Linked DNA regions of Homo sapiens. The protein of the gene in region 1 interacts with the protein of each later gene in a pairwise test. Each region holds a gene or a part of one and is shown on either strand. Other genes may lie near its edges. The genes, in order: APCDD1L, YIPF1, FXYD6 and CYBC1.

Region 1 (7,029 bases):
GGTGTTCAAGGTGTTGAATGGATTTTGACCATGGACGTGATGCCCAACAGAGTCCCTGCCTCCCATTGCACTCTGGGAGGGGAGGCAAGCATCTCCAGCAGCTTGGCAGGTAGAAGGCCTCTTGGATAACTATGTGAATTATGCCCATTTCAAAGATTGGATGCCGAGTCCCAGAGGCAGAAGTCTCCCAGTCCAGGGGTCCATGGTCAGGATGACCTGAAGTCTTACCCTGTGGAGATCCAAGGTCCATTAAGGCGTGGAGGCAGGATCGCAGTGCTGGGCACTCTATCTGGCAAGGGCTGCTGGCAGTGGGGTTCCCAGCGCAGGCAGCTGCCCCCGGCCTCCCCAGCCGCCGGTGCAGTGTGGGCTGCAAAGCAGACAGACCTGGGTAAGACCCCAGCATGCCCCGGGAACACCCACCCCATCTGCCCTCCCAACCCCACTGTGGCCACAGAGAGCCAGGCAGGGCTGTCCCGCAACCTCCATCGCAGCCCCGTCCCCAGGGTGCCCCAGTTCTGGAGACAGTGATGGGTTCCCCATATTGAGGATCCTAGAATCAGCCTCCCCGACGCATCTCCTCCTGGGTTCCCAGATGTGATCACCCTAGAATCCAAGCCTCCTAGATGGAGCCTGTCCCAGATTCTGGGGCTGGGAGGCCTCTGAGAATTGTACACGTGGAGCAGACTCTTAGAAGCCCAGACCTTCCACGGGCTCATCAGCCGTGGCTGAGTCCTGCCTGCTGGTGGCTGAAGGACCCACGCTCCTGGACAAAGGGCACTCTGGACTCAGGACCCAAGGTGCTGGGGACAGTGGGGCCCTAGCCTATCCCTAGAGCAGACCACTCCCCTCCACCAAGGAGCCCTGGGGGCTGCTTGGCCTCTCCCGGCACACAGCAGGCCCCTCGAGGCCACTCGCTTCAGGTCTCACCTGGTGCTGGGCACCTGCTATCTACTCGGTGCTCAGCGAGCGTGTGGCAAGGGAAAGAGCGCATGGCCGCTGCAGAGGCCCGGGCCGAGGTGTGAGGCCAAACAATGCAGGCCCTGCCCTTCTTCAGGGCTCCGTCCCTAAGCCCAGACACCAGGGGGAGGAATTGGGCTCAGGGCAGAAGGTGACTGGAAGATGGACACGGGAAGCAGGCGCTGCAGCACAAGCTCCAGGTCCTCTAGAGTGACCCCTAGATGAGCTTGGCTGGGCCTGGAGAAGTGAAGCCCGGGAGTGGGACTGTTCACGATCTTTTCTCGGGCTGCTGAGAGGCGAGAGTGCCAAAACCTTCAGCTGCTAAAGAGCAGCAGCTCTCCCAGAAACTGTCATCTCCAATCAGGGCTGATGGGCTTGAGATGGCCCAGATGACGGGATGCTGTGGGAAGCTCGGCAGTGAGCTGCGTCCAAATACTCCAGCCACGGGCTGTGCTCAGGGGCGCTGGCCTGGCCCTGGAGGCCCAGCTCCTGCAGCGAAGCTTCCAAGCATGGCTCTTCCCACCCAGCCTGGGGCTGGAGTGGGTCAGGAGGGGCTGAGTCTTAGGGCTCCAGTCCAGGGGATGTGGGGGCCTGGCAGTAACTTCAGGAGGCCTTGGGAGGGGTTGGGGGCTGAGTTGAGAAGTGAGCAGATGGCGTGTTCTGTCCCTTTCCTGACCTTGCAGGCAGACCTTCCCAGCAAGGGTTCAGGAGAGCTGAGGGCCCCCCACTGCCCCCGCGGAGCTGCCTGACCCCAAACTCTCTGTGCCCCAGGGGTATTTGAGGAAAATGAGGCAGAGTGGATTCCTCAGTTCCCTTGAGGTTGGGGGTTGCCTCTGGAGACTTTTGGGGTCCCCAGTGATCAGCTGAGAAGGCAGGAGTGACGCTGATTATGACAAGGGGGATGACGGCACCTGTTAACTGGGTGTGGACCCCTTGCTCTTTTATACATTATTCCCATCTGATCTTTGCAATAACCCTGGAGTCGGTGTTAGCATCATCTTCCTCTCATGGGCAGAGAAACAGGCTCAGCTCAGAGATGGGCTCAGCTTCCACGGGGCACATGCCACCCGGATGTGGCAAAGCCAGGATGTGAGCCCAGGTTGTTGGACTTCGGGGTGTGACGGCGTCACCGGTGCTTGTCTCACATCCCCAGAGAACACAAAAGGGGCTGACTTGGAGACGGGGTAAAACGCAGGGCAGTCAACAAACATTGGCCGACTGAATAAACGAAGGTATGAGTACAAATGCTGGTGTAGCCCTAGGTCCCTGTTGTAATCTTGGTTCATCCTGCAACTGATTTATTGGCTTTAATTAGCCAAATAGGAGAAATGAAAACAAATAGCCACCCAGCCAGGGCCAAGGTGTCCCCACACCGACTCATCAGCACTTGGGGCCACTCTGCCAAGTGAAAGAAATGCCAGTGGGATCTTGAAAGAGAGAGGCCGTGGTTGTTTTGTCTCAACTTGGCACGTCTACTTTGCAGGAATTTGTGGCAGGATATTGTAGTGGGTACGTAGGCACCAAAGTTGGGCCAGATCCCCATGCAACTCGCCAGGAGTCCTGAGCTGACGGGTGCACGTCAGCGTCAACACCACGTGCATGTGGGGCTTCTGCAATCTGCTTCTTCAGAAGACACTGGGTTTCCTGGATTCAATTCTGCAGGTTAATTTGAACATCTTCAGTGTCAACGAAACCTGTCCAAAAGTGTTGATTTGGGGGAATGGATGAAAACAGAGCGAGGAAAAGGATCAAAAGGGGTCAGCAATATTTGCCTGGTAGGAAAATCAAGCTTGCGTTTCAGAGTAAAATAGTGAAGGGGCCCTGCAAATTATCTTGTCATTGTTTCCACAAAACTTGGGCTCTTGAGGAAATGTTTTTCTGTTCAAAAGAAAACAAGGCTTTTTTTTTCCCCCTGCACCCTCCCTGAAGTCACTGAGACTAGATGGCCCTTTTGTCATGAATCCTCAGATCCTGTGTTTCTGCCGAGTGCATTTTAGTTTATCTTGTTTTTCTGTGAGGAACTGGGATTTAATTATGTTGGGAGACTCTGAGATACAGCGAAGTGTTGCTGCATTCGGAACATGTACACACAAATGCGAAGAGCTCCTCAAGATGCACCTGTGGAGGAGCATCACGTGGCCTCTTGGTCATGCGTGAAGTCTCAACTTCAAGGTTGCAAAAACGAAATTAACCAATTATAAATGATTCCATGACATTTTCTCCAACATAGCTCTTGGGGTAGATGTTGGATTTTCTTTGCTTCCCCCCCCACCCCTTCTCTTCCTCCAAAAAAGTCTTAACTAAAGAAATAACAGCTGAAAGCAGATGGTGCGGTGGGTTGGGTTACACAACTTTTTGCAGGGAAGTGATAGACGGAGTTAAATGCATGGACCAAATTGACTTTTATCAACCATGGATTTTTAATTAACAGTGGTGTCCACTTACTGTCATTCATTATTTACTGTTTACCCACTAATTAAAAATTATGCTGTTTTTGCATTCATAAGAGCAGGGACATTTGAAATTAGATAGCATTGTTCAAATTACCTGCAGAATTAAATCTAGAGTTCCCAATTGCTCAGACCAGGCTACCGGAGCTTAAAATATGACCTGCTTGAGGCCGATGTGTTATCCTGAATCAGAGCACCAGAAACAGGCCTCATGAACAAATACCATATGGACCTGCCTGGGGCCTTCCGGGGAAAGGACACTCACTGAGCACACCCAGAAGTGTGGGCACTTGGCTAAGATTGTCTTGAGATCATCAAATGGTGCCCAGCGTCTCCTGAGCACACATTCTGGGAGGCCCAAGGCCAGGTGCTTCATCTGCATCATGACCTTGAGTCCTCACAGCGGCAGCGTGTCAGTACCTTGGCAGAGCCCAAAGGATTGACAGGTATAATCGACACAACCACCCGTGACATGGGTTCTGTCAATGCACCCATTTTGCTGATGAGGAAACTGTGGTTCAGAGGGGTGGAGGGACTTGGCCATTGCCACTCCTCCACAGACAGATGCTTCTTAGCTAAATAAAACACAACAACACACCTAGTAAAATACACCTAACATAAAAGGTACCATCTTGGCTGGGCACGGTGGCTCACACCTGTAATCCCAGCACTTTGGGAGGCCGAGGTGGGCGGATCACCTGAGGTCAGGAGCTTGTGACCAGCCTGGCCAACATGGTGAAACCCTGTTTATACTAAAAGTACAAAAACTAGCTGGGCATGGTGGCGCGCACCTGTAATCCCAGCTATTCGGGAGGCTGAGGCAGAAGAATCGCTTGAACCCAGGAGGCAGAGGTTGCAGTGGGCCAAGATCATGTCATTGCACTCCAGACTGGGTGACAAGAGTGAGACTCAGTCTCAAACAAAACAAAACAAAACAAAACAAAAAATAACAGGCACCGTTTTAACCATTTTAAAGTGAACAATTTGGTGGCATTAGGACATTCACAATACCGTGCAAACACCAACACGATCTCATTCCAGAATGTTGTCATCACCTCAAAAGGGGACCCTGTGCCCATCAGCAGTCACTCCCGCTCCCCTCTCCTCTTAGATCTCGGCAACAATGACTCCGCTTTCTGTCTCTGTGGATTTGCCTATTCTGGATATTTCATAAAGATGGAATCCCACACTCTGTGCCCTTCTCTTACCTCCCTTCCCCAGCAATTCTCCTAGATGGGTGTGGTTATTCCAGTTTGCAGATGAACAGTGGAGGCCTAGAGAGGCTTCACTCCTGGGGCCACAATTTATGTTTTCTTCAAAGATCATGAAAAACGCAGGTATGGATCAAAGAGAGAAGAGGGTGGAGAAAAGATGTGAGTTTTGTAGTCAGAGCAGAGGGAGAAATATCAGCTTTTCAGGTACCTTTCTTCTGGGGGTAAAAAGCAAAAGAAAAGTACTTTTTTCTCCTGTAATCTGCTTGTTCTGAGGTTCTCGAAGCAAGGCACGAACGAACACAGGGTGGGGTGCGAGGTGATTTCAGGCGCGAAGCGAGCACTTCGTATTCCAACAGTCACGCGTCGGTTTTAGAGGGTGTTAAAAGTGGCGGTAGTTATCATAACAGCCTTGTACTTGCATGGCCCGTTTTTCTGAGGACTGAGTTTTAAAAGGTGATTGATCTGAACTTGATATTAAAATATTTGGTATTTTAATTATTTTCTTTTAATATTTTAATAAAATCATATTTTATAAGGAGATGTACAAGGGACTCGTGGGTGTGGTAAATGGCCTGAGGGTGGTGCACGGAAGACGGAGGGAGGAGCAGCTCAAGGTGAACTCGTCACCTCACCTGAGGCACGCGAAAGGAGAGCATCTGGGCATCTCAGGGCTGCCACGACAAAGACCACACGCTGAGTGGCTGAAGCAACAGGAGTCGATCCTTTCCCAGTCTGGAGTCTGCAAGTCTGAAGTTTGAAATCAAGGTGTGGGTAGGGCCTCTCCCAGCACCTGGTGGCTCCAGGTGTCCCTTGGCTTGGGGCTGCATCACGCTGGTCTCTACCCCCATCTTCCCATGGCCTTCATCCCTACTTGTGTGTTTCCTCTGTCTGCACCTGTGTCCAAATCTCCCTCTCCTTTCTTTTATAAAGGCACCAATCCCTGGATTAGAGCCCACCCTAATCCTAATCCAGTGTGACTTCATCCTAACTTGATTACATCTGCAAAGACCCTATATCCAAATAAGGTCCTATTCCCAGGTACTGGGGGTTAGGACTCGAACATATCTTTTTTGGGGGGTTACATTCAACCCACAGCAGATAACAAGGGCCATCCAAAATTGAGGTCCCCCAGGTGACCCAACTATCATTCATTCATTCATTTCTTCTCCCCAACACAAACACTTATTTTTATTTATTTATTTATTTTGAGACGGAGTCTTGCTCTGTCGCCCAGGCTGGAGTGCAGTGGTGCAATCTCGGCTCACTACAACCTCTGCCTCCCAGGTTCAAGCAATTCTCCTGCCTCAGCCTCCTGAGTAGCTGGGACTACAGGCGCATGCCACCATGCCCTGCTAATTTTTGTATTTTTAGTAGAGACAGGGTTTCACCATGTTAGCCAGGATGATCTTGATCTCCTGACCTCGTGATCCACCCACCTTGGCTTCCCAAAGTTCTGGGATTACAGGCGTGAGCCACTGCGCCCTGCCCCAAATACTTATTGAATGCCTGTTGTATGCCTGGAAATGAAATGGACTCTGGGTCTATATGGCTGCACATGATGGTCAGAATTCCTGTTCTCCTGGAGAGACTGACATTAATCAAATAGACTCACATCAGAGTAGAACTTCAAACCATCCCAAGTGTCTTGATGGAAATTTAAACAATGGCCAACAACTTCAATGATTTCCCAGTGCACTTGGTTCAATATCCAAGCTTTCTTGTGTAGCCTCGAAGCCCTTTGAAACTGGGTGCCTTTTTACCACCAGATCATCCACCCCATCCCACCGTGCTTTTCCACTGTGAGTCCCTAGTGCTGAAAGGGCAAACCTTTGGCTGCCTTGAGGCTATTGCCTGTGCTGTTCCATCCTCTGCTCTGTGCTGGGCTCTCCATCTTCGCGGAGATCTCGGCATAAATGGCATTTCCTGGCAGTGCATCCTTTCCAGGCACCCCTCTTCTGTTCACTCCATTCTCTTCTCTCCTGTGCAGCACTCATCACATCTGGCATTTATTATCTGCTTTCTTACTTCGGTTTACTTTTTTGACTTTTCATTCTGAAATAATTTCAGACTTACAAAAATGTTGCAAAAGTGGTAGAAAGAGTTCTAGTGTATGCTTTGTCCAGTTTCTCTACAGGTTAACATCTTACGCAGACATTGTGCAATGATCAGAACCAGGACGTTAACATCAATACAGTGTTCTTAACGAGTCTACAGACCTAATTCAAGTTTCATCCATTGTCCCATTAATGTCCCCTTTCTGGTCCAGCATCCAGTCCAGGATCCTGCATTGTATTGAGCTGTCATGTCTCCTTCAATCTGAGACATATCTTCTCTTTTTGTCTTCTACGACTTTGACACTTTTGAAGAGTAGTGGCTCTTATTTTGTAGTGTCCTTAGTTTGGGATGGT
Region 2 (7,029 bases), on another chromosome or scaffold:
AGGAACACAAGCAATCAAATGGGTATGCTTCAAAAAGTCACCAATATTAGCTCTCCACAAACTGCCTCTTTACTCACTAGACTGAAAGCTTTCTGCTGTAGACAAGGACTAAATCTCACAGTATTATTCTGAGTGACCACACATAAGAGTGGCAAAAAAAACCAACAACAAACAAAAAACCCCACAAAGCCCCTATAGCCAAAAAGCTTTACTGAATGAATAAATCTGACCATGTGTTATAGATGAGCTGAGACCATCCAAGGGTATGACCACAAGTGGCCAAAATATTAACTTACAATACCCAAATAACTAGAAAACCAAGAATATTATGTCCTCTCAGTCATTATTTACTAAGTACCCACTACCCTCTGCTGGGGACACGATGATGGGCAACAGAGACACAGTCACTGCCTCTAGTGCACCCATGCACTCCGGGGAGACGATCAATAAAATATCTAATCTCAGAAGGTAGTACAGGGTGCCTATGGGAGCATATAGGGAAGGTGGAAAACCTAGAGAAAGGGATGTGTAAGCTGGGATCTAAAGAAGAACAGGAGTTCACCAAGTGAGGACAGAAGAGAAGAGAGGTCCGTGAAGAGGGAATAGCAGGAGCAGAGACTGAAGTAAGAGGTACCAGTTCGAGGCCAAGCTTCAGGTCAGGAGTAGCCAGAGATTGAAGAGATGGGCCAGAGTCAGATCATGAAGGGTCTTAGAAGCCCTGTTGAGTTAGGAATTTATCTTGAGGGCAACAGGAAGCCTGTGAATTGGGCCTGGTGGCTTAAGCCTGTAGTCCCAGCTACTCAGGACACTGAGGTGAGAGGGTCACTTGAGGCTAGGAGTTTGAGGCAGCAGGGAGCTATGATCATGCCTCTGAATAGCTACCGCACTCCAGCCTTGGCAACACAGCAAGACCTCATCTCAAAAAAAAAAAAAGTGGGGGCGGGGGGGAATGCGGTGGCTCACACCTATAATCCCAGCACTTTGGGAGGCTGAGGCAGGCAGATCACTTGAGCTCAGGAGTTCAAGACCAGCCTGGGCAACATGATGAAACCCTTTCACTAAAATATTAATTAACTTTTTTAAAGGCAGGCTGGTATGGGAAGATATGTATACTAATGTGAAGACTTATCTAGCATTCTCTAGCTGCCCCATGCTCTAAGCTACCTAACAACTCTGGCACGGGAACAGCTGGAGAAACAATATTTTCAGGTGGCCTGAAAGGTCCAACACCTGCCCACCCACTACCTCTATGTGGCCCAATGCTCATCCTTGGACACAAGCAAGATAACTTTCCCAGCCCTTAGCATTTTTGTCCCTCTCCTATTATCATCCCTCTCCCCCGTTTGCAACCCTTCACTGAACCTCCACTGCTTAAGGACAAAATCCTAATTCCTGAGGCTGATATAAAAGGCCCCAGGATCTGGGCTCTGTAACTTCTCCAGCTACCCCCAGTGGAAGGCTGGACTCCAGAGACTTACGACACCCACTCATCCCAGGACCTGCCATGTTGCTTCATACTGCCTTCTCCGTTTCCTGCCAAATTCCTACTCTTATTATGGGTTGGGGGTGGGAGAGAGCCTTAATTTAGGTTGTATTTATAATTAAAATTTCATATTATGCATTTTTATATTATGAAATATTTCTAACATACAGAAAAGCACGAAGAATAACACAAACACTGGTTACCTAGCATGTCACTTTTAAAAAATATTTTTAGGCCGGGCATGGTGGTTCACACCTATAATCCCAGCACTTTGGGAGGCTGAGGCAGGCAGACCATTTGAGGTTAGGAGTTTGAGACCAGCCTGGCCAACATGGTAAAACTCCGTCTCTACTAAAAATACAAAAATTAGCTGGCGTGGTGGCACATGCCTGTAGTCCCAGCTACTCGGGAAGGCTGAGGCAGGAGAATCACTTGAACCCAGGACTCAGGGGTTGCAGTGAGCCGAGATTGCGCCTTTGCACTCCAGCCTGGGTGACAGAGTGAGACTCTGTCTCAAAAAATATATATATATTTTTAATGGTATCATTCTATTCATATCCTTCCACAACATGCTTTTTAAAATCATTGTGCTAAGATTTATCTATATTTATGCTTTTAGCTCTCATTCATTTTTTTAACTACAGAATTCCATGTATAAATATAGTAGCACAATGTATCCATTCTCCTGCTGATGGATATCTTGGTTGTTTCTAAATATTTGCTATTACAAGCAATACTGCTACAGTGGATAATATTCTTCTATATGTTGTTCCATATATATGTGAATTCCTCTAAAATTATCTACCTAGGAGTGAAACTGCTGAATTATAGGGTATAAGCATCTTCAAACTGCTCCAATTTGTGTACCAGTTACATACCCACCAGTTACATACCTACCATACAAAAGTTTCCACTGCTCCATATCCTTGGCCACACTTAATATCAATGTTCATGAAATCTGACTTAGAGTATGTCACTCCTGGCTTGGGGCAGTGGCTCATGCCTGTAAGGTCAGCACTTTGGGAGGGTAAGGCAGGAGGATTGCTTGAGGCCAGGAGTTTGAGGCCAGCCTGGACAACATAGTGAGACCCTGTCTCTACAAAAAATACAAACATTATCCAGGCATGGTGGCACATGCCTGTAGTCCCAGATACTCATGAAGATGAGGTGGGGGAGGATGGCTTGAGCCCAGGATTTTGAGGCTGCAGTGAGCCATTATCGAGCCACTGCACTCCAGCCTGGGCAACAGAGCAAGACCCAGTCTCAAAAAACAAAAAAGTATGTTACTCGTCTGTCCAAACTCTCCAATGGCTTTGCATTCAAGCAAATGCCAAAGTCCTCACTGTGACTTATGAGACCTTACCTGTCCCTCCACACTGTCTCTCTCACCTCATCTCCTTCTAGGTCCCCCTGTTCACTCTCATCCAGTCGCAATAGCCTCTTGAGGTTCTTTGAATGTACTAGGCTAGCTCTTGCCTCAGGGCCTTTGCACTTGCTGATCCTTCTGTTTCAAGTGCTCTTCCCTTAGATATCTACATAAATCACTCCCAATTACTTCAGGTCATTACTCAAAATTCACCTTTTTAAATTTTCAAATTCACCCATTTATACAAACACTTCATGTCCTTCTTCTCTCTGCTATTAAATTTTCACCTAAGCATTCATTACTAGAAAACTATATATTTTACTTTTCTTTGCTTATTGTTAAGCTCAGTAAATTAAAAATTGCCTAAGGGTAGAGATTTTTATGTTTTCACTGCTGTATCTCCAGTACAATAGCAAGAGCTCAATGTTTGTTGAATGAATTGAATGAATAAATGAAGACAAGCCAAACTGTGTATGTTTACTAAAATAATGAGCATAAATAATCTTATTTTACTTTTTATTTCTCTGGTTGCAGGTGGGGCTAAGCATCTTTTCATATATTTATTGGCAATTTTTTCCCCAGAGTTGCTTGGTTTATTCTTCTAATTTGTGGGAGTTCGACATATATTCTTGTTTCTCACTGTTTGTTGGTTATATGCATTGGAAGTATGTCCCCTGGTCTGTGGTTTATTTTTTTACTTTACTTATGGTTTATTTTGTTGTGTAGAAATTTTAAATTTTAGGTGAAATGTAGTCAAAGTTATCAATCTTTTCCTTACACTCTGTAAATTGTCATCTTTTTCTTAACTGCCTTCCTCTAACCTCCACCCACAACAAAACCTAATCCTCTCTGCTATCAAACACTTCACCTATATTGTACCTTCTTCTTTTAACCACGTCTATGAGCTAATGAGGCTACTAGTGTCACAGAAAAGAAGCAAGCCTTGGATTCAAGCCCTGGCTTTGTCATGAGAGGCAGTATAGCATAGTGATGAAGAAATGGATTATGAGCTACAGTGTTGATTTGAAAATTGAGCCCAGCACTTACTAGCTGTATAATCTCAGGCAAGTTACTGGACCTCTGTGTGACTCAGTGTCCTCATCTATAAAATGGGGATAATAATAGTATCTCCCTCATGAAGTTGGATCTGGCATAAGGATTAAATGAGTTAATACAGGTACTGCCCTAATAATAGTGTCTGGCACATAATAAGCATTATATGTGTGTTTGCCATTATTATTGCTAACTCTGTAACTACGGGCAAGTTATCTCCTTAATCTCAGTTTTCTCTTTTGTAAGATAAGGCTACCTTGGAGTATGGGAAATAAAATAGCATAAAATACTAAAATAGTGCTTATCTCCACGCTTGGCACTTATAAGGTATTCAACAGATGTTAGTGTTCTCTCTTCTTCCTCATTGGGGCTAGGGACCATGGCCTTATCTTTAAATCCTCAGCCTCTAGCACAGAGTCTAGCATAAAATAAGGTGCTAAAAATTGTTTGAGCACCTGCTGTGTGCCAAGGCCTCTGCCAGGCACTAAAGACACTGAGGCACAGAGCCTGCCCCTCAGGATGTTCTCAGGCTACAAGTAAGAATGAATGAGACAGAGAAACCACCCTGACAACCCTCAGATGAAAAGCATGGGCCAGTGCAATGGTTTTCACACCAGGCTCCCTAGAGTCCATATTTAAAATCAACATATATGACTGCTTTACTATTTATCATTTCTGATTGAGCATATATATCAATGATCCTCACTGAGCATCAGCTTCCTCATTTGAAAAGTGGGGATACTTTGCAAGGGTTGTTGCAAGAATGAGATATGATCAAGTACACACACAGTCTTTGGTACAGCACCTGGCACACGGACAGCACTCTCTTCTCCCCTCAAACACAGGCCACTGTTGGGGCCTTTTCCTCAGGAGTACTGGGTGGACCTCTGAGTTTTTCTCAGACAGCATTAAGGTCAGGGATGACAACAATCCCCGGCCCAATCCTGTTTTAGACTTCCACTGCTGGTGACCAAATCCTAAAAGGAGCCAGCTCATCTGAGGGCAGAGCTGGAACTCAGCATATCAATGAAAAAGTGTGAGAATACCTTCTCCTCCAACATCAAATGGTCCAATCTCCACCTAGTCAAAGTGACTAAATTTGTCTCAAGTTGTAAAGTTATTTGAAGAATTTTTAAAAATCATTCTTTTTATTTTTATTTTTTAGTAGAGATAGGGTCTCCTTATGTTGCCCAGGCTGGTCTCAAACTCCTTGGGCTCAAGCAATCCTCCTGCCTTGGCCTCCCAAAGTGTTGGGATTACAGGCGGCAGCCACTGTGCCAACCCAGCCTTTAGTAGAGACAGGGTCTTGCTATGTTGCCCAGACTGGTCTCAAACTCCTAGCCTCTGGCAATCCTCCCATCTTAGCCTTCCAAAGTGCTGGGATTATAGGCATGAGCCACTGCGCTCAGCCCCATTTAAAGACCTTTGAAGGATATACTAGTACTTGTAATGATGACGTGGCACTAATATAACACATAATTGTATTCCTCCAAAATTACTTGCAAGGGTTGCTACTGAAGTTCAGAAAAGTCTAATAATACATGGCATGCCCCACCAATAGTGCAGTTCTCCACATTTCCAGGCAACCCTCACACTCACCCAAGTTCAACTGAAATACGGTAAACAAATCAGTACTAAACATACCATAGAGATCTGGATTGCTGCGGATATATAACCTCACAAAGTTTTTCCCGGGTATTGGCAAAAGAGATCCTTTAATTCTGTCAAAGACCTGGAAAACATCATAGCAGTAATTCTACTGAAGTTTTTTAAGTTTAATAAATTCAACTACTACAAAATTGAAACTCAGTCATTAGAGCTTTTATGATAGTATTTTCAAATGCTAATAACCCTTTACTTTTGTAAGACCATTTTCAGTATATAAAGGCTTTCACATTATTTGGTTGTTCAACCATTAAAGAAACAAGTCTCCTTTACCCGTAAAAGGAAAGGTGAAATTGGTTTCCAAACCTGGTAGGTGTCCACATCAAAGAATGTTTGGTAGTATTCAAATGTCCAGAAGGGGGAGCTTTTCTTCTGTCCAGCAAGTAACTGTCAGAAATAAAATAAAACATAATGAACACATAAGCAATTTCTTAATTCCAGCTGCGTGGGGTGCAGGAGGGATCTGATCTAATGGAAAAGCAAAACGTTTGAAACAATAGGCTCTTCCACATTCAATAACCAACTCTGAAATAGCCAATTCGCAACTCTCAGCCTGATTAGAAAAACAAGCATTGGTTTTGAAGTCACACCAAAAGGGTTCAAATCCTGGCCCCTCCACTGAGGGGAGCTTTGGCAAATCACTAGACTCCTGCTGGGCTTAGTTCCCTTATCTAGATTCAACAGTATATAGAATTATGTACAATAATAAATACATATACACACATACAACACATACAGAAGGCAGTCAGTGTAAATATCTTTTCGCTTTTTTTTTTTGAGATGGCGTCTCACTCTCTTTCCCAAGCTGGAGTGCAGTAGTGCAATCATAGCTCACTGCAGCCTTGAACTCCTGGGCTCAAACAATCTTCCCACCTCAGCTTCCCAAGCAGCTGGGACTACACGCGTACACCACTATGCCCAGCTAATTGTTTAATTTTTGTAGAGACAGAGTCTCATTATTTTGCCCAGGCTGGTCTCAAACTCTTGGGCTCAAGTGATACTCCCGCCTCAGCCTCCCAAAGCACGGGGATTACAAGCGTGAGCCACTGCATCCAGCAGTGTAAATATCTCTTCCTCCCCCATCCATCCACAATCCTCCCTACTATTGCCACCTGAATTCTCAAAAATCTGATATATTGACTCACTCTAAAGTACTAAAAATATTACTACTCTGACAAAAAAAAAAATCCTATTGAGAAGAGGCACCTGAGGAGGGCCATACCCATCCCAACAACACAGCTCTTTGGTGGCAGAATGCATGCCCAATGCCAGGAATTGTGCCTGTCATCTTCAGATATCCGAAGGGAATTCATACAGCAAAAAGTACGGTGAACACTGAGCTGCTTTGCAGGACAAGGGCAGGTGCTATAGGCAGATATTTTTTGTTCATTATAAAGGAAAACGGATGGCCGATTAGAAGTAGCTGTGGTCTGCAGCACTCACAGAGAGGAGTGAAAGCGGT
Region 3 (7,036 bases), on another chromosome or scaffold:
ATTGGGGGGCTGCCTGGCACAGTCTGCCATCCAGATGGCGGCCGACTAAGTCCAACAAGGTTGGGAGGAAGAGAGGAGGTGCTCTTATTTAGGGGAGATTTCGGTGGGTGGACTCCCCCGAGGCTGTCGGGAAATTTCCAGGGTCTAGGAAACTGCCCTTTCTCCCCCATCTCCTTGCCACAGCTTCCAGCCTCGCCTTCCAAGAAAACATAGTGAAGCAGGCTCCTCGGTTGTACCCGCCCACTAAGGGACCCTCACTTTGGAAGGGCGTCCCAGTCACCAGCCGACCAAAGGCTCTCCCTCCATAGGTTTCCATCAACCCACCATCTCTGATGGTGACTGAGAAAAGAAAGCAAGGGTTGCAGGACAGGCAGTGTGAAGGCCAAAATCCTGGCCGAGGAGTTAGAAGGCCTCAGCGACTACTGGCCACGTGACTGCTGAGCCTCAGTTTCCCCCACTGTGTTCCCACTGGATGCTCCCTCAAGGCCTCTTCCGGCTCTGAGAAACCTAGGATTCCGATGTCAGGGATTGTGTCTCCCTCCTCACCTTCATGTCCCCAGCAATTAATACACAGTAGACACTTAAAACAGTTCTTTGAATGATTGAATGAAATCGGTCCTCAGGTCAGTCTGAAGATCCGATGGAAGCCAGGAAGGAAACGCTTCCCCCAGGCGCCTACCGTCTGTCAACCATAGAAGCCACACGTCTTGGGAGAACCCTGGCAAGCCTAGAGCCCTTTGCACACCCGCTTCCTCTCCTAGATGCACAGATCTGTTTGGAGGAGCCAGGGGGGAAGCAGGAAAACGTGCCAGGAAGAGAGGGTGGCCTGAACCCCAGGCAACGGCGGGTAGCCCTAACTTTCGCTTTCTTGACTCCTGTGGCCCCTCTCCTTCCCTCTTTCTGGTTTCCCTCCCCTTCCTGCCTCCCTGGCCTGGCCTCCTTGGCTTTCCTGGGACAGTAACCACTTTTCCTTCTCTCCTTTGTTAGGGCTCAGAGCCTCCGATGGTCCCAGAGCTGGCCTGATCCTCTGCTGGTGAGGATGACTCCCAGAGCCTCAGGCTTTCTCTGGGTCAGGGAAAAGAGCAGCGGCAGTGGAGAGATTGAAATTCTGGTCAGTGCCCAGCTTCTGGAGCCCAGCACCTGGGAATGGCTCTCGTTAACACCTGGAGCTCCGGACTGGGGCTTTGAGGAGGAGGGAAAAGGGCTGCGCCCACTCTTTATCCAACCTTCCCTTCCAGGTTTAGGGAAGGGGCTCCTCTTTTGAGGGAATCTGGCAGTGCCTTTCCCTCCACCTTCCTCTGCAGGGTTCCCAGGGAGATGTTAGGGTTTTCCTTCTGGGCTTCCTGAGCCTCCATCTCTTCCCCTCCACACCCCTAGGGAGGTGGCTGGATAAGGAAGGAAACTGCCCTCTCTCTCCCCTGCCTCAGCCCAGCCTGAGACTTATTTAGATGTACTGTGTGTGTGTGTGTGCATGCACAGTGCGCATGTAGGGTGTCAGTGTAGCATTGTAGCTGGTGTGTGGTGGTGCGGTATATATGCGGTGTGTTTGGTGTGTATGTGTGTATAGGTATGATGTATATGTATGTGTGGTGTGAGTGTGAGGGTGTGTTGATTGCGTAGTGTGGTATATGTCTGTATGTGTTTGTGGTGTTGGTGATGTGCAGTGTGTGTGAAGTGGGTGGTGTGAGTAAGGGGCCACTGCAATTGGGTGTAGGAGCCAGATATCTAGGTCTCCTAGCCAGGGATAACCAGTATCTAGGCAACCATACTGGGGGGAGGGGAGGAGATATGGAGGTGAGGAATGGGCAGGAGAAAGAGGGAGGCTGAGAAATGGAGGAGTTTCCATGGCAACGACCAGGCAAGTCACGTGCAAAAGGCTAAGTTGCGGACGTAGACATACACATCCATAATATGAGGGTGGCTGGATCCCCAAAGGGGGCTCCTTTCAGAGAGGGCCTGAGATGCCCACTGATCCATCTTCAAAGCTGGAAATCTTAGCCCAGCCAGACAGCACGAAGCCACAGAGACAAAGGAAGTAGTGGCAGAGAGCACACTGGTGGGGAGAAGCCTCCAGTAGCCACGGTCCCGCGAGCGTGCAGGCTTGCAGCAGGTGACGCGGCAGACCCATGTTTCCAGCGAGGCTGCTCCCAGCTCCCACCCTCGGGTGCCTCCTCTACCAGCCACCACTTGTAAGAGCCAGAAGCCAGCGCTGGGAGCTCCAGGCTGCACACCCAACTCTCCACGGAAGCCCGGGAGACACAATAGGGGAGGCTCTGCCAGGGCCAGCCCTGCTGGGGAAAGGGGGCAATGGCGGACCCCAGGGCCCCCCGGAAAGGAAACAGGATTGGATGGATAAGACAAGAAGGAGGGAAAAAATGATGCACTCTCATGAATCCCCGAGCGCTAGAATCCTTCTTTCCCTGCGCCCCCATCCTGTGCCCACTGCCCAGCCCCACCTTCCCCAAGCACCAAACCAGCAAGTTCCATTTTGTGTCGCTCATAAGTCCACACTCACACCCAGCCACACGCCCTCGTCCGTAATTCCCCACGCTCCACCAAGTGTCCACAGCTTCCAAGTAACAAAGGGAAAACTCCTCATGGATAAAGGGTGGGCGCAGCCCTTTCCCCTTCTCCTGAAAACCCTGACCCCAAGCTCAAGGCAGCACCGAGAGCAATTCCCAGCCACCAGCGTCACCCCCAGCGCCACAGCCTGCCTCCCCTAGAGGCTCCTCTCTCTTCCGACGCCGATCTCCTTGTTTACATCCCCAGCCCGGTTTCCCGCTGCCCAGGCGGGGACCGCGGCGCAGCTGACCGCGGAGGACCGCACACACCCACTGAACACACAAAACCCGGCGCTCCCGGCGCTCCAGAGATCGGTCCCCACCGAGCCTCGCCCCTCCTCGGAAAAAGGAGCCAACTTTGCCCACCTCCCCAGCCGCCTACCTGCACAGCCGGTCCCCTCCGAGACTCCCAGGAGGACCCGCCGAGTCCCGAGGAGCCTGGGAGTGGCGGGGCTGGGGGCAGGGCGGTGGGTGAGGCTTGAGCTGCTTTCCCGCCTCCCCTCCTCCTAGGAGTCGGGCTGGCTGGGAGGCGCGTCCTGCGGGGGCGGGGGGGGGGCTCGCTCGGGGCTGGGCTCGGGGACAGCCCACTCCGTGCTGCCGTCCGCTGGCTTCTGGGTAGCGGCCGCGCGCAGACCCCCTCTCCTCCTCTCCCTGTCCGTCCTCCCGCTCTGTGCTCGCGCGCGTCCTCTGCTCCTCTCTCCTCTCGAGGGGCGGAGAGATTTTTCCAAAGGGCAGTCAAGCTCCGAGAAGCAACAGGAGACTGCCGCCGAGGAGGCGTGCAAGCGCCGGAGCGGATTTGCCATCAGCTGTTGCTTTTCGGTTTCCCTCTGGTTAGGGTGGGAAGGGAGCAAGACAGGCACAATGACAGACCTGGTGTCTCTCTGCAATAGTAAACCCCGAGGAACGGAAAAATAGGAGAAAATAACCCAGCACCAGACACAGCAGCCCACGTTAATTGGGAGCCTTGGTAATTAAGGGGAATGTGCACCAAAAGCATGAATGGCTGTGTCGTGGGCGCAGGAGCCAGCTCCAGTTGTAGTTGTCATTTTCAGCTAGAGCCAGGTGGGGAGCTGGGGGGATGGTCCTTACCTGAACCATAGATCTGCTGCCTTGAACCCCCTTTTCAAGCCCCATCCACCTCTGGCCCTGCCAGGAGCAGTACCACCCCGTCCTCAGCCCAGTCCCCAAGAGTCAAAATTCATGATGACGAACTTTGAATGTGAAGATGTAAATAAATCCTGGCTCGGCAACCCTGCCTGTGACGCGACTTGGAGCATATCTCTGCACTCAGCTCCTGAGTCTATTTCCTCACGTGGGAAAATGGTGATTAGAGACTGACCCCATGGGAGGCTTAGCTCATAGTGAGTGCTCAAGAAATTGGCTCTTACTATTAGGGGCAGAGCTTGTAGGAAGGGGCAGAGGCCAGGCACAAGTGTCAGTAGCCAGGAGCCATGCTGAGATGGAGGCTGTCCAGCCTCAGTCAAGGTGTGTGTATGGCCGAGCCGGGTGGAGGGAGGAGCTACTGAGAAAGGCTGTGATTGTCCAAGCCTAGGTAGGGCCACGGAGAGTTCCTTACAAACCCCAAGCCGGGGATGATGGGTACTGCTAGGAAGAAACCTAGCCCTGCCTCTGCTGCCCTCAGTTCTGGGCCTGTTTTCTCATTTGGGAAAATAGGGAGATGGACTAGATGATCCTGAGGTCTCTTCCAGCTCTGCCCTAGATGATCTAATTATTTTAATAAAAGGTCAGGTCTCAAAACCCCAAGGCAGGAAATATACATGAACTCAAGAAGACTTTGGAACCAGTAGGGGAACCATAAATAGCTACTGAGAAAGAGCACCCAAAAAGCCTCCCCTCAGGGGATAGTTCTGGCCCCTTAATCATGGGACCTGGCTGAATGGATGCCACTCTGGCCCAGTCCTGAACTCCCTGGGGTTCCTGTGAATGCTAAAGCTCCTTCTCCAAAGCCAGACTCAAATCTTGCCTATTTGCGTGCCTAACCCTTTGCCGTTCCTGTCTTTTCCTCTATAAACTGAGGACAGCATTCCAACTGTCGTTTTCCCTTTTCATGTATTCTAGGTGGCAGATTTAAAACCACATCCCTTTCTAGGCCCATGTCCTTAGGCAGGTACATTCATCCCTCCAAATGCCCTTGAATCCTGCCTTTTGGCCATCTCTCTGTGCTTTTTAGAGCACCTACTAGTGATGACACGTCAAGCCCAGGCTTTGCAAGCCTATTTGGGAAAGGATAGTTCAGAACTCCAAAGCCAAGCCACCTTCTGGTTCAACCCCATTTCCAGCCAGAGAGTTCTGAAGTGTTTGGCCCAGTGACTTCCCAGGTCCCCCTACCTAATGCTGACCAGCCCAGGCTGCAGAGGGATAACAGGAACTAAATGTGCATGAGAAACCGCCATGGCTTAACTCTCAAATAGTGCTTCATCACGTTCCATCCAAGGGTACTGCTGGAAGAATTTGGGGTGTTACAGCTACAAAGCAGCACGCAAGCTTGTTCTGGGGTGAGTCACATCTCCCTTCTAGCAGGAAAATAAACACATCTACCCCCTGTGAAAAATGTGGGCATTCATAAAAAGAGGTCGCCAGCTGTTCCATTCTTTCAACCACGTATGGACAGGAGGAGCTACTCTTCACTGAGACCTGGGCCAAGATCTGAGGATATACTGTGGAGAGGAAAGATGTGGTCCCTGGGTGAGATAGAGATTTAGCAAATGTTCCCATGAATAAACGTGTAATTAAAACACAGTTCAGAGCCCTGAAGATATAGCATTTGAGAAAGGTCAGGAGATGTTAAGAAGATGAGGTAAAGGAGCCAAGAATTGGGATGTCAGGGTGGGAAGATGATTCTGCCTCTGGAACAGAAGCAGTATGTGCAAAGGCCCTGAGGCAGAAGGGGCATGGTGTGAAAGGAGCCAGGGTGGGACTGGCCCAACAATTCCTGGTGATTCCAGCTTTTATCCTGGGAAGCACTGATGGGCATCATGAAAACTGTTCTGAGCAAGAATTGGTGAGAGGTTGGGTTGGGATGTTCCTGGTGGACCCTGCAAGTCAGGGTTCAGGGGGCTGTGTGGGGGCAGCACTAACATGAAGCTGAGAAATAAGCCTGATCCCCACTAAAGAATCCTGCTTCTTTACAAGCCCAAAGAACAAAAAAAGATCCAGGGCAGGGCTGCGCAGCCATGGAGAAAGTAGGGTAAGAAAGGGTGGAAACCATTCCTGAAATACTCCCCACCCGCCAGAACTGGAACCATGGGAAGACCTGGAGCTGGAGAGGACAGCATAACTGCTGGGAGCATCAGGGACTGCTCTATGCTTTGAAGCTTGCTCTGGGCTAAGTAACTCACAAATGTGCAGCTAAAATCCCATCTGGAGAGGACTTGCCCTGGTCCCCTTGTATTGCAGCAAAATAGCCCTTCCGCATGTCAGTGCCCTGGTCACACAGCCACGGACAGGTCACAGAGTGACCTCCTGTGTCCTGGTCACACCGGACATGGAGGGCCTAAAGGGGAAGTTAAAGGGGAGAGACCAGGAGTCTTAGAAGAGACCCTCACCCCTCCTAGCAGGCATCCCTTCTAGTGGGGTGCCACTTCATCCTGGGGTGGGGCTGCAGAAGGGAGCCGATCTTGCCCACTGACTGCTACTTTGTGTCCATGCATACCCACTTGGCTTTGCACAGGTGTGAATGTGTGTCCTCCCCACTCAGCCAAATGCCAAACCCCCAACCCCTAGGACAGAATCGTTTCCTAGCTCCTTGGCTGAAACAGCTCTGCTCACTTCCAAACCACTCCTTGATCCTGGGTCCCTTCCTCTCTCTCCAACCTTTCTTTGTCAAACTCCTCCAACTTCTCCCTCAAGCAGCTGTGTTGAGTCCTTGGTCATCTTATGCAGTTGCTAGACAATCTAAATCCACAACCAGGGTTTTACCACCCGCTTAGGCTTGATGAGTCCACAATATCCAGCCCGGTCCTCTCCCCAGGAGACCCAGGCAAGTAATCCCAGGGAGTCAGCACCGCCCACTCCCAATCCATCCTCCCAGTCCACTCCCTATCCATCCTCTCACGGCTTGAAGCCGTTCCCTCTCATGTCTTCTTTGAATTCATGAATGGCACTGCCCCCAATCCAGTTACCCTGCAGAACACATGCCACGCTCAGACCTCTCCCCCAGTGCCTCCTTTCCTGCCCACCACTCCTGTTCTAGGTCAGGTCTCTGGCATCAGATTCTCACTGGTGACTCTGCCACAGTCCCCCTACCTCTAGGTAGAGTTATCTTCCCCAATACAAATGCGATTCAAAACTTCAATGGCTCCGTATTTTCTACGAGTTAAAGTCAAAATTCTTAACACGACATTCAGCCTTTACAACCTGACACCCACCTGCCTCTCCTGCTTCATCTCGTGACCCATTCCCTGCCCTATTTCCCCCCATCACCCTCATCACTCCAATCCTTGTAAATGTCGTGT
Region 4 (5,696 bases), on another chromosome or scaffold:
ACCTGGTGGTCTGTAACCCCTGACCACAGCTGTTCCTACAGTGGGAAGGGCCTGCTCATCAGGGGCTGTGGCTCCTGGTCCCGCTGCACCAGGGAGGTGGGGTCTTACCGGGATCAATAGGCAGGCAGTCACTTTCTCTTCATAGGAATCTTGTCGATTGGCCTGGCTGCTGCCTACTACAGCGGAGGTAAAGCACCCCCCGCCCCACCCCCCCATGACTGTCTCAGCTGTTTGGAAAACAGAGAAAAGAAGGAAAAACTGTCATTTGTGACTGTCCATGGGGCGGCCTTTAGGATCGGCACCTCTGCCCCTTGATTGCTGGCGGGCACCGCGCCCTCCATGCGCTGCTGTTCTTCCGCACGCCCATCCTGCCCAGCGCTCAGCCCACATTTCACTTCTTTTTTTTTTTTTTTTGAGACGGAGTCTCGCTCTGTCACCCAGGCTGGAGTGCAGTGGCGGGATCTCGGCTCACTGCAAGCTCCGCCTCCCGGGTTCACGCCATTCTCCTGCCTCAGCCTCCCAAGTAGCTGGGACTACAGGCGCCCGCCACTACGCCCGGCTAATTTTTTGTATTTTTAGTAGAGACGGGGTTTCACCGTTTTAGCCGGGATGGTCTCGATCTCCTGACCTCGTGATCCGCCCGCCTCGGCCTCCCAAAGTGCTGGGATTACAGGCGTGAGCCACTGCGCCCGGCCACATTTCACTTCTTAAGTCTTCTGTGTTTTTGGGTCATCAAATATTCCCGGAGAGATGCTCTTGAGGATCTAAGATCCAGCTGTGGGATGAGGTGTACTTCCCACCCTGCCACAATCACTGGGCCTGCCCAGACGGGCAGAGGCCCTGTGCGCCCCACCTGCCTCTCTCACGTGGACTCTGGGGGTCAGAGCTGGGTGGGGTGTGCCGCGTGTGGGTCCTGAGTGGCCAGGGCAGGGTCAGCAGCACAGGAAGCTGCCCAGGGGGTCCTTGCAAGCGTGGGCTCTGGCCAGCGTCTGGGGGAGGCTGTGCTAGGCGGGGCCTCCCGTGGGCATGTCCCTGGAGCTCACAGGCTGGCGCCCTATGCCCATCTCCAGATAGCCTGGGCTGGAAGCTCTTCTACGTCACAGGCTGCCTGTTTGTGGCTGTGCAGAACTTGGAGGACTGGGAGGTAAGGCCGGCTCGGGTGCGGGACAGAGTCCAGGGCTGTTCAGCTCCTGGGTTTTTTGCAATGGGAATGAAAGGAGGAGGAAGGGCCCTGGGTGGCCTAGCGCCTCCCCGTCCTGAAGCGTTGGTCCCTGCTTGGAGGTCTCCGTTCATCAGGACATGGCCCCTGCACTCATCTGGGACCGTTCTTGGCCAAGGAATTCCCCGAAGGCATTTTTCTCTTAGAAGCTCTCCATGACTATCTTCACCAAAGTGCTTTCTTCCCAGAGTTGCCACAATGGGATGCGAGTCAGCTTTCCCCGTGGCCGGCCCTCCCACCTCGGAGCCCCTCATGAGTCCTTTCAGCCTGGCCCAGTGCTGCCCTCTGACCTCCATGCCCTCGTTTGCTGGTTCCACTGCCTCCCTGCACTTGTTTTGCCTGCAGGGTGGAGCAAGCGCCTGCTGCACCTGCCCACCTCTCCATTTCCCAACAGGAGTCGGGTTGGCTGCCGATATCCGGCTCTGACAGAGCAGCACCTGTGGCTTCAGGGGTTTGGGTTCTGACTGGGAGGGTCCCCAGCCCCCCTTCTTGAGTGTCCACCCTGGTGAGGGTGGGGGTGAGGCCCCAGCGGCCACGGGGCCCCCGTTCCTGGAGGTTCATGGTGGTCAGTGCATGTCGGTTTCCAGGAAGCCATCTTCGACAAGAGCACAGGGAAGGTTGTTTTGAAGACGTTCAGCCTCTACAAGAAGCTGCTGACTCTTTTCAGAGCTGGCCACGACCAGGGTGAGTCGTGGGGAGCGTGGGGACATGGGACACGGCCACAGAGGCGGCGCACTTGGGCGTCTGGGTGACTCACGGGGCCTAGAGGGGGGCCTGGAAGTGCCTTTGGTCCAAGCTCACCTGCTTGGTGACCAGGGTTGTGTCCTGCCCGCTGGAAGCAGGATCCCACGGATACGCCCCACCTGCTCACCTGCTCAGCAGGGTCCTAGAGCCTCCTGGGTTCTTTAGAGGTTTGGCCCCTGGGGAGAGTGGGAGGAGCAGGGGTCTGAGGAGCAGGGGTCTGGCAGAGCAGGGGTCTGAGGAGCAGGGGTCTGGCCCACCCGGGCTCGGGCAGCCTCTGTTTAGCTGCATTCTCCCGTCTGCCTGGCAGCCACTTGTCCGCAGGTGCAGTCTGGCCCCAGCGGCAGGTCACAGGACGGGGCAGGGAGAGCCATGGCAGCCCGTGGGCGTTCTGGAGTGGGGCCACCTGGCTTCTTGCGGGCCTTGGCGCTGCTCCAGCTTTCCTGTGGGTTCTACTGGGCCTGCAGTAGGGGCTGGATGGTCCGAGGAACTCCCCACCCTTGAGCCTGGGCACTGGCCCAGCTGTGGTCAGTACCAGTTTCCTGTAGATGCTGCCGCACAGACAGACAGAGGCCCCGGGGTCCGGCCGCCCATGCATAGCCCCAGAGGGGACAGATTCTGGCGACCAGAGTTGCTGGGCAGTCTTGGGTTTAGTGCCGCAATGCTGCACTTCTGACAGGCTGCTTCCTGGATCCCTGCAGGGACCTGGCCAGGGCATTGGCCCCAGGTCACCTGTGGCTTTGGGGAGAGCAGTTGCAGGGCTGGCCTGGGCTGTGGGAGGCAGCTGTGCCGTTTTCTGACAGCCATTGGGACCGCCCCAGTACCCGAAGAGGTGGCTGCCCTGAGTTGCCACGGGAAACTGCAGGGTGGCCCTGGCTCAGCAGCCAACCTTGGGGAGACCTGGAGGAACAGTGCAGTGTAAAGATGGCCTCGCGCTGAGCGGGTCCCCGCAGTCGGCACTCCCAGGAGAACCAGCGGGCTGTGCATGTGACCCGCCAGCCTGCACCGCGGGCACGTCCTTCCCACCCAGAGGACCCTGCACTGCCTTCAGGGCCACAGCAGTCCTCCGGGGCCCAGCCTCAGGCAGGAAACAGCAAATGCTTTTGCTGCCAACCAAGTGTGGCTGTCGCTTTCGATGATGCCAGTGGCGCTGGTGCGACTGCCGGGCAGCATGTGTGGGCGGGGATGGCTCGGCCACTGACCGTCTCCCCGCAGTGGTGGTCCTGCTCCATGATGTCCGTGATGTGAGCGTGGAGGAGGAGAAGGTCCGGTACTTCGGGAAAGGCTACATGGTGGTGCTCCGGCTTGCGACGGGCTTCTCCCACCCCCTCACGCAGAGTGCAGTCATGGGCCACCGCAGGTAAGGCTGTGGGACTTTGATCTGGCCGGAGCTGCAGCCGTAGCAGGTCACTCCCGTTCCTGACTGCCCAGAGCTATGGGGCAGCTGGGAGAGGAGATGAGTTTGTGGACGGGACACAGAGGGGCCCACGGGAAGCGTGTGCAGGCTCAGGGGCAGCCCCACTGTGACGGGGAGGCTGGGAGCAGGCCAGGAAGTGCTGGGTCCAGTTTGGGAGCTCCAGGGTCTGCGGGAGGTAGGTGGTCGAGGAGGAGACTGCTGTGGGGTCTCACGGTGCCCTATGCCGAGGTGACCTGACCTTCCTCCCGTTGCCGGCCTCGCCCAGTGATGTGGAAGCCATCGCCAAGCTCATCACCAGCTTCCTGGAGCTGCACTGCCTTGAGAGCCCCACAGAGCTGTCTCAGAGCAGCGACAGTGAGGCCGGTGACCCTGCAAGCCAGAGCTGACAGCCCCACTGTGCCTGAGCCCGTGCACCGCCCACAGGACCCATGGCACATTCCCGGTGTGCCTGAGCCCGTGCACCGCCCACAGGACCCGTGGCACATTCCCGGTGTGCCTGAGCCCGTGCACCGCCCACAGGACCCGTGGCACATTCCCGGTGTGCCTGAGCCCGTGCACCGCCCACAGGACCCGTGGCACATTCCCGGTGTGCCTGAGCCCGTGCACCGCCCACAGGACCCGTGGCCTTGGCTTCAGTTGGTGCCTCCAGCCGAGTTGGCCTATTGCCTGCTCATGCTGCTGCTTGCACACTGCATGAAACAGCAGGCCAGACCAGGACATCCAGACTTTCTCCATCGTGAGGCCTGGGCCTGCCTTTCTGCAGCCGGAGGTCTCGCCAGCCCTGGACTCCTGCTTTGGGCCACAGCAAGACCTCGGGCGAGTGGAGAGGCGGGGCCAGGCCGGGCCCTTGTGGGTGCTGATGCTGCATGTTGTCCCCGACACAGCGTCCTCTCCCTGGTGGACATCCCCAGCGGTCAGGTGCTTCCCCAAGGGCAGTGAGGGGTGAACATCCAGGGCCTACCTGGCTGTGCACGCTGCAGCCACACTGTGGAAGCTGCCCCTCCCCGAGGACCCGCCTCCCTTGCTGATGCCAGGATCTCGGCGCATAGACCACTCTGCCCCAGCGGTCGTCACAGAAAGGTCTCTCTGTTCCTCACACTCAGCTTCAGCATAAGCTGTGAGGCCAGAAAAAAGGTCAGCTCTTCTAGTATCGTGCAGTGCTTAAAAACCGGGAGCTCCAGCCGGGCGCAGTGGTTCATGCCAGTAATCCCAGCACTTTCGGAGGCCGAGGTGGGAGGATTGCTTGAGGCCAGGAGTTCAAGACCAGCCTGGGCAACACAGCAAGATCCTGTCTTTGTAAAAAAACTAACCAAACAGGAAAAACTGGGAGATTTTCTGCAGAAATTGAGTTCCAGCCTCTCTCGAACCTGGGAAGACCTGGCAGGAGGGGGCTGGGCTCTCGGCTACAGACTTCTCCCCACCCCGTAGGAGCTGAACGCCAACCATCCTGACCCGCCAGTGCTCTTGGTCTCCTGAGTGTACCCAGGTCCTCCCAGGTGCGGTGTGCACCGAGCGCGCCTGGCCTGATGCCCTGGCCTGTGAGCTGGGGACTCCTGGGCCCTGTGAGCCCCTAGGCGGCAGGCCCAGGAATGGCTGGGTAGGACAGGGAACACCTTTGCCCCACGTCTGGCTGTGACCTCGGTGAAAGCCGACAGGAGAGAGATGGGACCCTCCTCCTCAGTAGTGGCTGCCAGTCCCTCGTTGCAGGACAGGGTCATCATAACCATAAATAACCCTTCACGTGTCACCTGCAGCTTCCACTCTTTATTTCCAAAGAATCAGTGTCACACATGCAGATCACAAAGCGGGTCTCCCTGTGCTGCTTCCTTCTGTGTTTTCTAGTCTCTCCCCCAGGGGCTGCCCAGGGCCCTCAGGAACTGAGTGTGGGCAAGACACTGCTGGGCCAGAGGGCACGACGCCCACGTGGGCCCGTATTGCCCAGGCCATTTGGCAGTGCAGAGCCCCCCCAGCCTCCAGCAGGAGCCCCCTGGCATGAGCTCTCCCCTCAGGGGTCCTGAGCAACGTCCCTGCCAGGGCTGGTGGGTGGCAGCGGGGGGGCAGACACCTCGCTGAGGTCCTGCAGCAGAGCTTGCAGCCGCTGCAGGCTGGGGTGCACGTTTTCCTCCAGCCACTCCTCCACGGCATCCGGGTAGAAAGCCAGCTGCAGGGCAGCCTCCAGCTCCTGCACGAGGGTGCTCCACTGTGCCAGGAGGCTGCAGGTGAGGGCGCCATGAACGCACAGTCTGCACACTTGGGACTTGCCCTCAGCCCCATGGTCAGTACTGCCCTGTGCCTCAGTTCACCTGTGAAATGGGGCTA

What was found.
Region 2: the proteins of APCDD1L (region 1) and YIPF1 interact in binary tests that used the Homo sapiens proteins (3 or more experiments, as listed by UniProt).
Region 3: the proteins of APCDD1L (region 1) and FXYD6 interact in binary tests that used the Homo sapiens proteins (3 or more experiments, as listed by UniProt).
Region 4: the proteins of APCDD1L (region 1) and CYBC1 interact in binary tests that used the Homo sapiens proteins (3 or more experiments, as listed by UniProt).

What each region holds. Positions count from the first base shown.
Region 1 is NC_000020.11:58,470,381-58,477,409, forward strand, and holds part of APCDD1L (protein APCDD1-like isoform 1 precursor), read right to left. Parts: intron 368-7,029; coding exon 229-367; exon of another isoform or gene 1-228.
Region 2 is NC_000001.11:53,872,769-53,879,797, forward strand, and holds part of YIPF1 (protein YIPF1), read right to left. Parts: intron 5,955-7,029; coding exon 5,874-5,954; intron 5,635-5,873; coding exon 5,547-5,634; intron 1-5,546.
Region 3 is NC_000011.10:117,873,649-117,880,684, forward strand, and holds the start of FXYD6 (FXYD domain-containing ion transport regulator 6 precursor), read right to left. Parts: upstream 3,011-7,036; 5' UTR 2,944-3,010; intron 1-2,943. UniProt on the Homo sapiens protein: Associates with and regulates the activity of the sodium/potassium-transporting ATPase (NKA) which catalyzes the hydrolysis of ATP coupled with the exchange of Na(+) and K(+) ions across the plasma membrane.
Region 4 is NC_000017.11:82,442,071-82,447,766, reverse strand, and holds the end of CYBC1 (cytochrome b-245 chaperone 1), read left to right. Parts: intron 1-145; coding exon 146-187; intron 188-1,070; coding exon 1,071-1,144; intron 1,145-1,806; coding exon 1,807-1,903; intron 1,904-3,175; coding exon 3,176-3,320; intron 3,321-3,642; coding exon 3,643-3,763; 3' UTR 3,764-5,174; downstream 5,175-5,696. Other genes in the region: HEXD (hexosaminidase D), read right to left, coding at 5,175-5,590. UniProt on the Homo sapiens protein: Functions as a chaperone necessary for a stable expression of the CYBA and CYBB subunits of the cytochrome b-245 heterodimer. Controls the phagocyte respiratory burst and is essential for innate immunity.